Regions from separate parts of the Homo sapiens genome. Here region 1 is linked to region 2. Evidence: fine-mapped expression QTL. A gene starts in region 2. The other region holds a variant in brackets. All regions are shown on one strand. Distances are from middle to middle. Region 1 overlaps ADAMTS9 (ADAM metallopeptidase with thrombospondin type 1 motif 9). Region 2 holds the start of ADAMTS9 (ADAM metallopeptidase with thrombospondin type 1 motif 9).

Evidence for each region. PIP is the estimated chance that this variant, and not a neighbour inherited with it, causes the effect.
Region 1: its variant is the best candidate, but not a certain one, in a credible set for the expression of ADAMTS9 in fibroblasts (GTEx, PIP 0.58).

The regions. Positions count from the first base shown.
Region 1 is chr3:64,665,029-64,667,941 of GRCh38, forward strand. The region is part of intron 3 of ADAMTS9 (ADAM metallopeptidase with thrombospondin type 1 motif 9); the gene reads right to left. Among named protein-coding and RNA genes, the nearest start is that of ADAMTS9-AS2, 18 kb to the right of the region's middle. The variant G/A (reference allele first, on the strand shown) is at 1,216.
Region 2 is chr3:64,686,738-64,689,650 of GRCh38, forward strand. ADAMTS9 (ADAM metallopeptidase with thrombospondin type 1 motif 9) reads right to left here and starts at 1,263. Exons shown (of 40, transcript NM_182920.2): 1 at 806-1,263; 2 at 1-231. The coding sequence starts at 920. The region is part of intron 1 of ADAMTS9-AS2 (ADAMTS9 antisense RNA 2); the gene reads left to right.

The sequences.
Region 1 (2,913 bases), 22 kb before region 2:
ATATTGATGCCTCCAAGTAGTAAACGCATGTTTGCATTAGAAGAAAAGTGTAATACTTAGCAATCTGAATCCTCATATATGCATCTAAATAAATTTAGACGTGTTTAAAAAAGCTCTAACTGGCAACTGTATGTTTCCTATCGCCACATCATAGGTATTACAGTTCTCACATTTTATTACAAGGACATGAGTTAATACAGGCTTTTGCAACTACTTTGGCGTCGATGCTCACAAAAGGGAAGTAGTCACGCTTACACTGCCACAAACAGCCAATGTTTGAAGAACTCATGCAATGAAGGGAGGGAGGCCCGATTTAAGTCCTATTTGACCTTGGGCAAATAACTGACTCCTGCTCACCCTCCGTCCTCCCACTTACAATGTGGAGTAAGAACAGTACCTATTTCATAGAGTGGCTTTGAGGAATAATTGGAGATCATGCATGCAAAGGGCTAGCACAGTGCCTAGTGCATAGGAACGAATGAATAAATATCATTATCATATTTTTCTATTTTTTGCCAGTCACAAAGTCATAAAGTGAGTTGGAACTAAAAGGAACCATTTAAGGTAGAGTGACTAAGTGTGCTTAAAAACAATTTTCTGGCTTACATTAACAATTTCAAAGCCATGAGCTGTATACTCCTAGTGGGGCAAATCAGCACAGAGTGTGCCTGATTGCATTTCTGACATCCAACTTTTTAATACTGTGAAAAAAGGAGGAACTACAAAACCAGAAGTGCTGAGGGCTGGTCTTCACCCTACTATCCCATATGAAGGCTCTTTTCTGAGTCACTTCTCTGGGCCTCAGTTTCCTGACCTTTAAATGGGCATATAAATACTTGCTTCCATCTTATGGCTATTTTGAGAATTAAATAAGAAAGCATATAGAGAATTTCTTATAAATTATAAGTTACATTTTTAAAAAAATTCACTCGTGGAACATCGATTTTGTGCCAAGTACTGGGCTAGATAAGTTGAAATAAACAACAGCAATGACAAAACAAGAATAAAACGTGGGTCCAATCTTTTAAAAAAAGGATTACAAAAATTTAAGATAGTATCCTTATTTTAAAAAACCTCACAGCAAAAAACTTTAACATCTGCTGATTTATTGGTAAAAATGTTTTAAATGAGCTTCACTTCACGTTGCAATACAATAAAATGCACAGTATGTTACTAAATAACTGGAATTATTTCAGCAAATACCAGCCAGGCCTC[G/A]TTATTCAGTGGTTACTCACTGAAGTGTTTCCTACCAAATGGGGTTGGGCCGAGGAGATCTGAATGTTAACATTAACAGTTGGAAAGTTAATTATTGCTCTCTATTTTGTAAGGTTTATCAAAATTTAACTGAGTTTCCTCAAGGCGCTGGGCTACCTTGTGACTTCACAGAGCACAGGACCAAAGGGAGGATTCAGGAGCAAGGCGAGACCCCTTTCTGCTCCACCCAAGCTTGACAGAGAGAAGGAAGTCTGCACAGGAATCATCTGTGGTGTTCCACTTGGATTCTGGAGCCAGGCCAACCCTGGTTTCCATTCCTCCCCTAAAGCTACTCTAGTTGCCCTTTCTTGTGTCATTTCCTTCTTTAAAGCCTCAGTTTCCTCATCTGTAAAATGATGGTAATAACAGCATACTGCAAAGAGTAACTGTGGAGATTAAAAGAGATAATACATAAAATGCCCTTAAAGCAGGGCATGACACAGAGGACAGGTCCAATACATATTTAACATAATAATAATTATTAGTGGTATTGTTTTACTTGTAGCATGCAAAACATCTGATCTTTATAAATTAGTATATTGACATTCTCAAACAAAACAATTTTGTTTTAGAAAGAATCTTTGATGGGGTGCAGTGGATCCTCCTGTAATCCCAGAAATTTAGGAGGTGAAGGCAGGAGGAATGCCTGAGGCTAGGAGTTCAAGACCAGCATATGCAACATAGGGATACCCTGTCTCAACAAAAATCAACCAAACAAATAATAGTGTGAGCTGTTGTTTTTTTGTTTTATTATTATTTTTTTAAGTGATGTGCCCAGTGTCAAGTAGTGCTACATGCACAGTGCTGACAGTAAATAAATACAAAGAGTGGTGGCAGAAGAGATTGTGGCTAAGACTCACTTTGGGCTGGCCTGAACCTTTATAAACTATGTTTCCATGAGAGTGGTTTATGGAACATTAGTCCCATAAGATAGTTCCAAAAACAAATCAATTAACTTTGCAAAACACTTAACACAGCATGCACATCTGGAACTTTCTCCATGCACATTAGCATTTTAAGAGCCCTGAGAAGTCTTGCAGGAAAGAAACCAGTTTACATGTGCTGAGTCGCATGATTGCCAAACTTACGGGATCTTTGCCAAGTTAAGAGGCAAGTGATGGGGACAGCACCATCACTAGAACTATAACAAGACGCAGGTGGGATGTGTGGATGGGCTTCCCTCTCAGGGAGAGAAGGGCGTGCGAGTGGAAGGCAACAACTGAGAAGCTTCTTGGCTTTTAAGGGGCGGTGGTGGGCAGTGGAAGGTGTCTGAGGGTCCCCTCAATACCTTCTAAGGGGGTGGGTGCCTCCAGCTACCTGGGGAGTTAAATTTGCTGACTTGGGCATGAGAGCTGGGTGCACTACCCCCAAAAGCCCTTCTGTGTCCTTTTCATTCTCCATTCTGTAGCTCCTTCAACTAAGTGTGATAACAACAATGACTATAGGCTATAATCATACTGGCCAACGTTTGTTGAGTTGCTTTTCTCTGTGTCAGGCACTCTCCTAAGCACTTCATATGGATTAACTTGATTATTCCTCAAAGCAACCCGATATGGTAGGAACTATTACCTTCATTTCAGAAATGAGGAAACTGAGGGACACTTGAAATAACTTGAGAAAATATTTAAAGTATCTATTTGAAGTAGTATAAGACGCTGA
Region 2 (2,913 bases):
TGGCGGTGAGATTAAATAGAAACTGCTGGCCGAAGGCAGAGAGGCGGTAATGCGCCTGGGAGGAGGTAGAGGAGGAAGAGGAGGAGGCGAAGGCAGGCCAGGGGTCAGTGGCAGAGTTAATGCTCCGTCGCGTTCTTTTGAAGTGGACGTTCGTGGGAAAGGGTTCTCCGAGAGCGTTCACTCGGATGGGAGACACGATTTCGTATTCGCTCAGGGTCTCTAATAATTTCACTGCGGAGAGAAGCAGAGGTATATGAACCAATAATTCATTTTTCCTTAAGCTTTAATTTAAAACGAAGGTGGGGACTTTGTTCTGACCTTATTTTCCAGCCCATTCGAGTCAATCCCTTCACCCTTAATCAGTGGACAAATATTTGCTGAGCACCTACTATGTGCCAGTAACAGGACCTGTGCTAGGTGCTGAGGATACACTATTCCGAGCCAGACAATTAACAAGTCAAAATATATATGATTTCAGATATTGATAAATAACCTGAATAAAATAAAACATGACGCTATCTGGTGCCCCCAATTACTAAGTTACTTTAGTTTGCGGCGTGGGAGTGGGGATGGGGATATATCTGGCAACAGCAAGGTAGGGGGGGGTTGCCTAAATTCGTTTCCATAGTGTCCCTCCCTAGCAATTGGTTGGGGATGACCCAAAGAAGGGAGAGGCTGCAAAGCGGGAGATAATTCTTTCTAGGAAAAGGAGAGAAGCCTCCGCTGCGGGGTGCCCCTGCCCAGGAGCGAGGACCGGGAGGCGGCGTCGGGGCCGGCGGGGTCCCGGGGGCCGGAGCCTGGTTACCTTGCCTCGGGTGCAGCCTGTCCTTGCGCACGGCCGCCGCGGCGTCTGGGCTCCCCATCTCGGCCAGGTCCCGCACCAGGAGCGTTAGCAGTGTGGCCCAGGATACAAACTGCATGGTGCTTCCCACCCCTCCCTCCGCTGCCCCCACCCCCCTCCCTCCTGCCCTCCTTGGCTGCGGCGGCGACGCGAGGCAGCGGCCGTGGAGAGCGCGCGGAGCCCGGCGCCCGCCGCCAACTTTTGACTTTAGGAGTCGCTGAGGTCTCGCTGCGAGGGTCCCGTCTGCGCTCGGCTGAGCAACGCCGCCGCCTGCCGAGAGCTGAGCCGCTCGGGCCGCAGGAGGAGCCGGAGGAGCAGGAGGAGGAGGAGGACTGGGGCTCGGCTGCTTGGCCGCATAATGCCCAGCGAGCGGGCAGGAGAAGGCGAGGAACTTGCGCTCCGAGGCGCGCCGGGCGCCCTGTGCTGGCCGGGATAGCTGAGCGGCTTCTTGAATGGGGGGCTGGGGGGGCGGAGGCGGGGGGGCCGCGGGTCCACAGCCTCTCAAATGCCCCCGGTGCACGCCTCTAAGAGGAGGAGAGGGGAGGAGAAAGCGAGACGAACGGGGACCGCCTCCTTCCAGACCATGTCCCCTCCTCGGCCGGCCCGTGCGGGACTCGCAGCCGGAGGCCCTGCCGGCTGCAAGAGGCGGAGGCCAGAGGCGTCACCAGCGCCGGGGCAGCTGTTCCTGGTCCCCGCCACCTCGCTGAAGTGGGGTTTTCTGAGATTCCCTGCCCCGGGGAGGGAAAGCAGGGAAAGTTCTCTCCCTTTCCTGGCGCGCGTGCAGCCACTTCCCCTCTCGTCTTTTTCCTCTCCTCTCCTCTCTCTCCTCCCTTCCGAGTCTCTTTTTCCTCCTCCCCCTTGTCTCTCTGCTGCTGTGCCTCTCGGACTCTGTCCCTTCTCCCCATTTTCCCCTGTGATGTCTGTCTTCTCCCCGCCCCACCGTGTCCCTGTCTGTTTCTCACATTTCTCCTTTTCCTTTCCTTTCTCTTCCGTCCCCATCTCTTGCCACCAGTCCCCATCTTTTGGTTTCTTACAAGTGAAAGTGGCCCAGCGCCGGAGCGCCTTCCCTTCCTACACTTTTTCATTCGGGAAGAGATTTGGCACCTGAGCTCCGCTCTCGATTTAATCACCCCAAGTCAAGAGTTTTAGAAATGGGGTTCTTAATCCTGCAGGTCGGAGTGTGTTTCTAATACGTGGTCTCTTGAAAATTTCGCAAAATATTTAAGCTGTGCTTTCCACCAACCTCTGTCACCATTCATGGAGGGTCCATAGCATTCTGTAGGTCCCCTGCCCCAAAAAAGGTTAAGAACAAATTTTGGCAGCAAGAAGGGGCGGGGACTCTGGCGCCCCTCACTACCAGGGGGTTTAGAGATGGGAGGGGAAGGGGGGATGGAGTGTAAAGTTGTAGATCCCTGTGGGAGGCACCAGTCCCTGGAGGGATTTCTCAATCACTTCCGCTTGCTTTCAGCCTGAGAGATGCTTGGAAAGACTGGGAAAGACTGAAAGCAGGCGCTTCAAGCTACACCTTCGTGTGTGTGTGTGTGTGTGTGTGTGTGTGTGTGTGTGTGAATTGTTCAATCTTGGGTGGTTCAGTGGCGCCTTTTCTTTAACCAGCCCTCAGGAAGATAGAATTTCAAGATAATTTCAAGAGGAAAGACATGACAATATCGTTAAAAATATATAAATATATGACTAATAAATATATATTTGCCCAAGTATCCTAGAACGGGGGTTGAGGTTCTGTTGCGTGGTAGGTTAGCACTCAGGACTAGAAATACCAAAGATTGCCAACACCAGGAACCAAATCGCAATATGCTAGCAATGTCAACTATTCTTGAGATACTAATACATATATTTCTTCTGGTGAAGGGTAAAAATGACTTGGCAAGACGAATTTGCTAAATAATTGTTAACCCAAATTGATAATGTTACCATCGTCTTATTACTGGAATTTCATAATGGATATGTAAAATGTAAGGATGGAAAAATAACATCTGTATTGTGCACAATTAGAGATTTTTAGAGAATGGCATTTAAACCTTGAACCTCCAAATTAATTCACTAAAATACGT